Regions from separate parts of the Homo sapiens genome. Here region 1 is linked to region 2. The links come from fine-mapping of genetic effects on gene expression. A gene starts in region 2. The other region holds a variant in brackets. All regions are shown on one strand. Distances are from middle to middle. Region 1 overlaps RIN2 (Ras and Rab interactor 2). Region 2 holds the start of RIN2 (Ras and Rab interactor 2).

Region 1 (5,372 bases), 240 kb before region 2:
GAGCTTCTGAGAAATGTGAGCTTTTCTGCTCACCCCCACGATACATTGTCTAACCACAAACCCTGGTTCGGATTTCATCTGTCCATGACACTGCGTGGTGCATGAATATATTCTTACTCTAAAGAAAAAAAAAAACAGCCAAAGGATATTTCAAAAATTATTTTCACACATGATTATCATACAGTATTACAATGTATTATGTGCAAAATTCCATTTAAAAAATCATTTACAAAAGTACAACACAGTATGTGCTGAGGGTTCTAGTTCAACAAAAGCCAAGGCTAAAAAAGGTACAAGGTACAAAGCCAACCAAATGAGATGACTATGCATCTTTACACAGTACAATAACATGTTTTTGTAACTACCTGTGTTACGTGGATACAAGACCCTCATAGTTTGTGCACCTGCAAACTGGTTTTATTTAACATAAGTTTAATTTCACTGCAGGTTCTGATAATGTAGATTGATTTTTTTGTGCATTTTCAAATTCTTCTCCATTATATAGCATCTTATTTAACTCAACAAAAGCCACATTATACATTACTTGGTTTCTGGTCCCAATAATTTGATGCTGTTAAGTTTTAATTTGTATGGAAAAGGGAGAAAAGTGTTCTTCTTGATTTTTATTTTCCTCAAGGGGCTTTCAAAATTGTTTCTACAAGCAAATCACACATGGAATAGATTTTGCCAAACCTCACTGCATATTTACAGTATTTTAAGCATAGGTGGTTCCTTCTATCTCTTTTTCTACATCTTTTGAAGAGCCTGAACCAGCAGACTGCACTCCTCAGTCCTTTGTTAGAGTTCATATTTCTCTCTCTACCTCTCTCTACATTCATTTCTCTCCTTATTCTCAGCATCATTTGTTTAAAAAACAAAACAGCAAAACACCACTAAACGTGAACAAGAGAACAGTACATCCGATTTCCAAAGGCATTCTGTGGCCAGTGTCAGGAATACGTTGCTTTAAGAAATCCAGCAGTCTCTCCCCACAAAGTTGCCAAAACATCCAGTTACAGAAGAGAGACTTTAAAAATGCAATACTCTCAAATCCAGCAAGAGATTTATTTTTGAATATTAAATGTTAAAATCACATGCATAATTATAGAATATTTTAAAGTTACAAAAATATTTTAAAACCAATCCTGACAGTTTACCTGCAACTGCTATAAAAATTTCTATGAAATATATAAAAACATGAAGGCTCTTTGTAAAAAAAAAAAAAAAAAAAAAAAAAAGGAAAAAGAAAGGAAGGAAGGCAGGGATGAAGCCATCCACAGGAGTGAGAATCACCTGACGCACTGCATCGCAAGCATCTGCTGTTGAATTCAAAAGAACTTGTATCTTAAGTGTTTCTTCTGCACATATACATACCTGTAAGCCAACCTAGAACCTGACTGGGGGTAGGTAGCAAACAATCTCAGGACACTTGAACCATCAGATGCAATTCTCCATTGCCAAAAGAGAATCCTACTGTTTCACAAACCTCAGCTACCTTGCGTGGCTAAAGTTGCCCTTGGCCGAGTTGGCCTGTGGATGGCTTAGTCACTACACTGAGGGGTCCCCGAGGAGGTGACTGCTTTTCAAGCTCAAGCATGTAGAAGCGGGAAGGCAAGGCTTCCAGCTCCCCTTTGGATGCACCACTGGGAAGTCCCGCCTGTCTTCTAGGAGGTGGTGAGGTCTTCTTCCCCGTTCTGGAAAATGATGCCATAAGGATCGTTCTTGATGCGTTTGTAGACAAAGTGGAAGATGTGGGGCTGTGGTCGGCTGTGCAGCTCCGCCTTGATTTTTTGAGGGTAAGTGTCCTCTGCCAGCTGCTGCCATGTCTCGTCAACGAAGAGAAAGAGGCTGTACTCCTCAGGGTCCCCCACCTTGAACTTCTCAGCGCAGATCTGACACACATCCTCAGTGGTGATGTAAGGTCTCACAAGGAGGGTCTTTCCTGTGCAACCACTGTTGACCTCCTGAAATGCAACTCGGAGGTAATTCTGCAGGTGGAAGAGGAATGTTGAGACAGTCAGAAGAGAAAACTAGATAGTGAGCATGATGGGGGACCAGGGGAGGGGGTAACTGTAAGCCATTTCCAGGCCCTTTCCTGTCATAATGTCCGATGTCAGGCCACGAGGCTTCGAATGGCAAGGAAAGAGGCTGATCTGACTTTGGACAGTGGCGAAGATGACTACATGATTCATTGCAACTGTAAGAAGCAGGAAGTCCATGCAGCCCTGGTTCTGATCTTTCCATTTCCCTCATAAGGTCTGGTTAAGAAACCCCTGCTTAAGAGTGTGAACCACATCCAATGCTGGGTTTATTCCCAGCTTGAAAACTAAACCAAATAGCACAAGAGTATGAAGGAAGTCAGCAGAAAGAGATTTAAAATATCTAGACACAAAAGCACGTACTGTGCTCACTTTTTGTTTTCTTCTTTTCATTTTAAGAGATGAGATCTCACTATATTCTCCAGGCTGGACTCATACCGCTGGGCTCAAGTGATCCTTCTGCCTCAGCCTCCTGAGTAGCTAGGTGTACAGGTGCATGCCACTGTACCTGGCTTGTGTTCACTTTTGACAAACTTTTTAAATAAATCCTAAGCAAGGGCAATCATTTAGGTTGAATCACACACACACAAAATGCGCTGACTTTTGACTATTTTTTATCTCCCCCAAATGGTGATTTCATGTAGTTCAATCTAATACAAGGCTCCTAGTGGCTCTGGGCACAATGTGGAAAAAGTCAGAAGGAGAAGAATGTTGATTTTGCCAAATACTTTGCAGATGGAGCTGATTACATGCAAGGTGGTGCTGCAGGGAATTAAACAAAGACGTTTGCAGGCTCAGGTGCTGCAATCATGCCAGGTACATGCTATCATGAAACATGTAAACCTGTGGCCTTACAAGATACAAAGCCCAGACCAGGCATAAAGAATCTTAAACTCACATCAGGCTCTCCTAGATTTTGTGACCCCAGATAACTTTGCTTCTGTTTCCTTAACAGTGGAGTTATCAGATGAAATCTAGAACA[G/C]CCAGTTAAATTTGAGTTTCAGCTAGAAAACAAATAGATTTTTTTCTGCTAAATCTGGCAACCCTGCTCAGCAGTGAAGGGAAGGAGGGCTCTCTGCCCAGGTGCCTGCAAGGTCACCACGAGGGTTTCCTGGGATAACAGAAGGGAAAGCTCTTGGGAAGGACAGTGAGCTCTGCACATGTAAGATATGTTTCATATCTGCTTCCAGTGGGGACTTTTGCTAGCCCAGTGACTTTGCAGGAGAGGTGAGCTAGTGGGAGGTGCCCAGATTGACAGTGACACTCTTTGAACCTTTTTTTTTAAGAGACAGGGTCTACATAATCCCTGTTTGACTAGTGCAGAAACTGAGGCACAGAGAGGCTACGTAACTTGCCCAAAGCCACACAGCTAGGACGTGGCAGATGCAGCCCCACCGCCTTTACCACCAAGACGTACTACCTCTTCCCATGTGAGAAGACCTCTGTGTCTGTGGCCTCTGATTTAGGGGTTCCAGATGGAGCTTTGGGTCTGAGGTTTTGCTTTGACCCCTGAGCCGAGTGCTGAACATTTCCTTCTTCGGTTACACTCTGAGAAGGCATGCACCTCCAAGGTGAGCAGGGTCAATGAGGGCAGGAGGGGACGGCTGCAGAAGAAGGCAGCTCTATGGTGTCTGAGGGTCTCCAGGTGAAGAGGTGGAGGAGGGTGTGTTGGCAGGTGGGGAAAGGAACAATGAACTTTTTTCACTTCCTCTGTTCTGCCCTAGGCAGCCCCTCCCTGGATGGCTATATGATGGCACCCCAGGGGTCTGCAGGCACTGAGTGGCACAGGGACCTTCTTAGTGCAACAGGGTGGGGAGAGTGCAGTGCGTGTATTCTCACTCTTTAGGTTTATGCGCTCCAGAAGGAATTTCTGAGCATACTGCAATCATGGAGAAGAATGAGCTGATCTTGGCTTTCAAAGATGGGCTTGCCTTTTTGTTTGTTTGTTTTTGATACAGGGTCTCATTCTGCTGCCCAGGCTGGAGTGCAGTGGTGTGATCATGGCTCACTGTAGCCTCAAACTCCTGGGCTCAACGGATCCTCCCACTTTAGCCTCCTGAGTAGCTGGGACTACAGGTGTGCACCACTACGCCTACCTAACTTGAAAATTTTTTGTTGTGGTTGTTTTGTCGAGATGGAGTCTCACTTTGTTGCCAAGGCTGGTCTCCAACTCCTGGCCTCAAGCGATCTTCCTGCCTTAGCCTCTAAGGTGCTGGGATTACAGGCATGAGCCACCTCATCTGACCCTCTATTTTCAGAGCTCTTATAAAAAAAAAAAATGGCCAGGCGCAGTGGCTCACGCCTGTAATCCCAGCACTTTGGGAAGCTGAGGCGGGTGGATCAGTTGAGGCCAGGAGTTTGAGTCCAGCCTGGCCACCACGGTGAAATCCCATCTCTACTAAAAATACAAAATAAATTAGCCAGGTGTGGTGGTGAGCACCTGTAGTCCCAGCTACTCCGGAGGCTGAGGCAGGAGAATCGTTTGAACCTGGGAGGTGGAGGTTGCAGTGAGCAGAGATCGTGCCACCACTGCACTCCAGCCTGGGTGACAGAGCGAGACTCTGTCTTAAGAAAAAAAAAAAAGCAGGTGAATCTGGATGTGTAGACAAATCTGTCTTGCTTTCCACATCCCTGCTTGGAAACTCATCATGGGGAACATAGAAACAAACCACAGGAAGGTTTTATCATTTAATTTAAAACCTTCAAAATATTATTTGCAGACATTTGCCAACTCACTCATTATTTCATAGACAATGAGCAAATCAGGAATTGTGTTGGGTAAGGATTTCTTTGTTTCTTTTTTGAGACTAAGTCTCACTCTGTTGTCCAGGCTGGAGTGCAGTGGCGTGATCTCGGCTCACTGCAACCTCCATCTCCTGGGTTCAAGCGATTCTCCTGCCTCAGCCTCCCAAGTAGCTGGGATTACAGGTGCCTGCCACTACACCCAGCTAATTTTTGTATTTTTAGTAGAGACAGGGTTTCACCGTGTTGGCCAGGCTGGTCTCGAATTCCTGACCTCAGGTGATCTGCCCACCTTGGCCTCCCAAAGTGCTGGGATTACAGGCGTGAGCCCTGATGCCTGGCCTTGGGTAAAGATTTCTATAGCCCTAACCCACCTGTCCATTCTAAGAAACAAGCTCACTGGGAGTCCCACATTCCCAAGCAGCAGCTCACGGTCAGGAAAAGCCCTGGCCAGGGAACCTGAGCAGGACTCGCTCAGATGCTCGCCTGGTCACTCTGCGCCGTGGACGGCTGCCATAGCTGTTGCTGCTGCTGCTGAGATTCTGGGGTCTTCTGTTTTGGAGAGTGGGCGAGAGAAAAGGGAAGGAGACA
Region 2 (5,372 bases):
GCCTTGACAAAGGGACACTTTTGTTCATTCATTCATTCAACACCCCCTCCTTGAGTGGTAGGTCTTAAGGGCTATGGCCTGGTTTTGGACCCTGGGAAGCTTACAGACAGTGGGCAAGTGAGGTCCACTGTATTGCTTTAAGAGATACATACACATACACACACACAAGGAATTCTGGTGGCAGTGAGGGGGTGTCTTACTGGGGAAAGGAGGACAGGGTCGGGGAAATCTTTCTTGCTGAAACTATTAGGATTCTTGAAGGTTCATTAGGTAGGTTGGATATACAAGGGGAATTGGGCACAAGGTCAAAGCACTATAATACAGAGAGTATGTGAAGAATGGGCCTCCCATTAATGGGTCACACGAGCATGGACCTCTCAGGGTAGCATACCCTGTGTTTCATCTGTGATACCTGATTCATCTGTGTCCTCCAAGCAGAGGAAGAGGGTTTAGCTAAGCAAGGAGGTTCTTTCTGGAAAGTGGAAGTCCTGAAGTGGGTAGTGACCCTTGACTTTGGATAAGGTGTATGGCAGGACACCTTGGGTGGGGATAAGAGTGCTGCTGCGAAGTTATCTTTAAATAAGCACACGCCATAGCCATCCTGGGAGTCAAGCTCCCTCCCACCTGCCCTACACTAGAGGTCAAGTGTGGGCTATTTCAGTTTCCTCCTCTGCTCTGATGAACTGTCTGCAGGAGAATGTTTCCAGACAAAGGTCTTGATAGCAGGTTGGTTTTCCCCGTGTCTCCAGCCTCCAACTACTGAGAGCAAGTCTCCAAACCCAAAAGCTCCTGTCAACAGCCTTCTTCCCAAGTTCCAAAAGCAAGGGCCCTTCACTGTCCCGGGACCCTACCCATCCCTAGCCTGTGATGCTCTCTCTGGAGGTGCCAAAGCACGGGAGTGCATGAGTATTCCAGAGGCAATATTGGAACCTGAGGCAAAAAGGAAAATTAGCACCTCTATATCCACTTATGACAATATCCTCCTACATTTGAATTAGGTAAAAAGTTAATAAAAGCTCTGCATTCAGTGAACGTGACTACATCTGAAGCCAGAGTTGCTCAATCTGTTGCATGCCACTGTCAACTCTCAAACCACCAGGCAAGGGAACAAACAAATGGGGAGGTGGGGGAGGGAGACTGGATATGACTGTTCCCATTGAACAATGAAGCAGGGTTCTTTTTTTTTAGACAGAGTTTCACTCTGTCACCCAGGCTGAGTGGAGTGGCACAATGTCGGCTTACTGCAACCTCTGCCCCCAGGTTCAAGTGATTCTCCCACCTCAGCCTCCCGAGTAGCTGGGACCACAGGCACATGCCTTCAGGCCCAGCTAATTTTTGTATTTTTAGTAGAGATGGGGTTTCACCCTGTTGGCCAGGCTGGTCTTGAACTCCTGACCTCAAGTGATCTGCCTGCCTTGGCCTCCCTAAGTGCTGGGATTACAGGCATAAGCCACTGCACCCGGCCTATGAAGCAGGGTTCTAACAACACCCACCTGTATTTAAAATGTTGATTTTTGCTTATCATGAATTTTTTACATTCAATTTGGTTTTGTTAAAAAGATTGTATTAAAATACTATTTATCTTAATGATGGAGTGCTGCCCTGTGTGTTTCTTTTTTCCCAGTAAGCCCTTTGCACTCCCAGCAAGTGTTTCTTTTTGCTTCAGTATTTACAGTCCTTTTGGTCGAAGAGTACTCTGATGTTTCCTTACCGATGACAGCGTGTTCCTAAGAAACCCCAATGTGCCCAAAACCGCGCAAGGAAGTGCCGCTACACTGCGGAATTAGGAAAGCCCCAGGGATTTAAGAGCTCTGAGAAGACAGGCGCCTCTCAGGGCCCAGGGGACCGATCTTGCCCTGTATTTCTTGGCAACATATCATAGGCTTTCAAGCTGAACTTCTGCAAATCCTGCTGTCCCCGCGCGGTCGAGGGGCGCGCCACCGCCGGTGGGTGGACGCCGAGCTGGTGGGAGCCCAGGCCAAGGGTGGAGGCCAAGCCCAGAAGGGGGCGGGGAGGCCTCAAAGTGGGAAAGTGGCCCCGTCCCTTCCCGGCAGGAATCCGGGGCTCCTCCTCCGCCCGCTGCGCAGCCATCAATCACCGCGACAGCCCAAGTGCCCCCTGCCCGGACACAACAACCCTCCTGCTTTTCCACCCGGGGGAGGAAATCTCCGGTCGGAGCATCTGCCCTGCACACTGGCTGGACTCACCAGTGGGGTCCGCGCTGGGGATCAAAGCTGTGCGACACCGGGTCTGACCCGCGCGCTCAGGCGCAGGGAGCACTTGACACCCCACAGGCAGCCCTGCAGGTAGAACTCCTCAAAGGTCCCTACCAAACTCCGTCCGGTGCACACGCACGCACACCCGCACCTCCGCACCTCGAGCCATAGTGCCTGCACCCTCCAGCTGTCCCTCACCCCAGCCCCGCACAGGTCAGCTGAGGACACCCGGTGACCCTGCCGGGACCAGCGGCCACCTCGCGCTCCGGAATGTCACTCTGCCCCTTGTCCCCACTCCCTGATCCCCCTTCCCCCTTCCGTTCCCCACGATCCCCGAGGACGCGCTCTGGCTGTCTTCCTCAAGTCCCCTCCGGAGTAGGGAGAGAGTGCGCACAGCAGCACCCACGTCTGGAACCCCAGAGAGCCCCGCCCGTGCCCGGAGCCTCTCCGGGCTCTCTAGGTGCGGGCACAGGGGGTGGGGTCTCCGCTGCCACCGCCCCTTACCTCTCGCGGGCCCTCCCCGCAGGTCCCGGAGGCGGGGGCGACCGGTGGCCCCAAAGACGAGCGCGGGGCTGGGTTTCCCCGCCCGGGAGGAGCAAGAGGAGGAGGAGGAAGAGGAGGAAGGGGGAGAAAGGAGGGGAGGGGAGGGGAGAGGAGAGGAAAGAGGAGGAGGGGAGGGAAGGGCTTTGTGTTTGCCTCGGGCCGTCCCTCGGCAGTAGGGAGCCATCCCCCTCCCCCAGCCACCTTCCTGAGCTCGCAGAGGAGATGGGGCGGGGGTGATCGGATCGGAGGCAGCGACCAAGGCGCCTGCGCGACCCCAGGTCCGGCCCATCCCTCCATTCCCTGTAACCGCCAGCCTCCGCCCCTCTTGACAACCACCCGCTACGCTTACCCTGTTACAAGGAACCCAGGCTGCAACCAGGAAAAACTGCCATCAGAAAGTTTATCTAAGCCGGAGCAAACTTGGCTGGACCGGCCCCTGACCCGCCTTGGCGCTGCCGCCCCTGTCTTCTGCGGTCCCCGGCCAGGCGAGGACCAGAGTTTTGTTCTCGGAGATTCTTGCCTTTCTTGTTTTAGCACAAACGCGCACGCACCCCTTTCCCATAACGAGCCCCTCCGCCCAACTACAGATCCCGGGATCTGTTGCAGGGGCTGGAAAGGCCCCACTCGAGAGGCCTGAGCTGGCTGCGGCTCTTGGTTCCGGGGCAGGTTCTCCAGGGTTGGATACGCTCTGGACGCCTGGGCGGGTTGTTTTGCTTCGGCCTCGCTGGCCAGGGGCCCGCCCACCCCGCCTGGAACGCGGTTTGGATCGGCGCTGGGAGCCCTCCGTAACCCCAGCTGAAGGCCGCGCAGGCAGGCGGGGACGCCGGAGCTGCGGGGCCGGTTCCCAGCCAGCATCCAGCCTTTTCGGAATCAGGCGGGTCCCTGGTGATTCGCTGGGTTTTCCCACTTCCCACGGGGACCTCACCTTTGGGAATTAATTGCTGACAGTGTTAGAGTTACAAAGTAGCCAGTGTCACGGAGGGAACCTCAAAGAGACAAAGGGACACCTCGAAGGTGTCAGAGAGACGGTTGTTTTGGACAGAAACAGAACAGCGAAGCGGAAAGAAAACAGACCTTATTTCTGTTCTGTTCCACTTCAGATAGTAGCAGAGGAGACTTGGATTTCATTGGTGTTGGTTTTCGTGATTCCTGCCTTCTAAAATCCCAAGACTTATTTATCATTTATCATCAGCTCAGATCCCAGGAAAACAGTCCACTGCACTTCGGTTTCTGCTCCAAGTCACCCATTAAATAAATAATTGAACACCTGCTGGTGCCAGGCGCAGTTCTAATGCTTGGGATATGTCGGTGAACAAAGCAAAGGTCTCCCTCACCTGGGGGAGCTGAAGGCCTGCGGGGAAGAAGTGGGAGACAGAGGGTAAACCATGGCCATCCCTAAGTAAATTATTTGGGGTGTTGGAAGAGGTCGGTGATAGGGAAAACAAGAAAAAGAATATGGGGGCCCAGAGTGCTTGTGTCTGGAGCAGGTCACAGAATTAAATAGATGGTGTGTGTCAGGCCTCTGAGCCCAAGCCAAGCCATCGCATCCCCTGTGACTTGCACGTATACATCCAGATGGTCTGAAGTAACTGAAGATCCACAAAAGAAGTAAACATAGCCTTAACTGATGACATTCCACCATTGTGATTTGTTCCCGCCCCACCCTAACTAATCAATGTACTTTGTAATCTCCCCCACCCTTAAGAAGGTTCTTTGTAATTCTCCCCACCCTTGAGAATGTACTTTGTGAGATCCACCCCTGCCCACAAAACATTGCTCTTAACTTCACCGCCTATCTCAAAACCTATAAGAACTAATAATAATCCACCACTCTTTGCTGACTCTCTGTTTGGACTCAGCCCACCTGCACCCAGGTGAAATAAACAGCCATGTTGCTCACACAAAGCCTGTTTGGTGGTCTCTTCACACGGACGCGCATGAAATTTGGTGTCGTGACTCAGATTGGGGGACCTCCCTTGGGAGATCAATCCCCTGTCCTCCTGCTCTTTGCTCTGTGAGAAAGATCCACCTACGACCTCAGGACCGACCAGCCCAAGAAACATCTCACCAATTTCAAATCCAGTAAGCGGCCTCTTTTTACTCTCTTCTCCAACTTGCCTCACTATCCCTCAACCTCTTTCTCCTTTCAATCTTGGCGCTACACTTCAATCTCTCCCTTCTCTTAATTTCAATTCCTTTCATTTTCTGGTAGAGACAAAAGAGACACGTTTTATCCGTGGACCCAAAACTCCGGCGCCGGTCACGGACTGGGAAGGCAGCCTTCCCTTGGTGTTTAATCATTGCAGGGATGCCTCTGTGATTATACACCCACGTTTCAAGGGTGTCAGACCACGCAGGGACGCCTGCCTTGGTCCTTCACCCTTAGCGGCAAGTCCTGCTTTTCTGGGGAAGGGGCAAGTACCCCAACCCCTTCTCTCCTTGTCTCTACCCCTTCTCTGCCTTTCCTGGGGCAGGGGCAAGTACCCCTCAACCCCTTCTCCTTCACCCTTAGCGGCAAGTCCCGCTTTCCTAGGGGCAAGAACCTCCCAATCGCTTATTTCCGCACCCCAACCTCTTATCTCTGTGCCCCAATCCCTTATTTCCGTGCCCCAA

What was found.
Region 1: its variant is fine-mapped to the expression of RIN2 in fibroblasts (GTEx, PIP 0.91).

Annotation. Positions count from the first base shown.
Region 1 is chr20:19,997,229-20,002,600 of GRCh38, reverse strand. RIN2 (Ras and Rab interactor 2) reads right to left here. Exons shown (of 13, transcript NM_018993.4): 13 at 145-1,988. The coding sequence ends at 1,665. Among named protein-coding and RNA genes, the nearest start is that of NAA20, 17 kb to the left of the region's middle. The variant G/C (reference allele first, on the strand shown) is at 3,022.
Region 2 is chr20:19,755,676-19,761,047 of GRCh38, reverse strand. It overlaps RIN2 (Ras and Rab interactor 2), which reads right to left and starts at 2,790. Exons shown (of 13, transcript NM_018993.4): 1 at 2,721-2,790. RefSeq lists an enhancer at 1,827-2,401.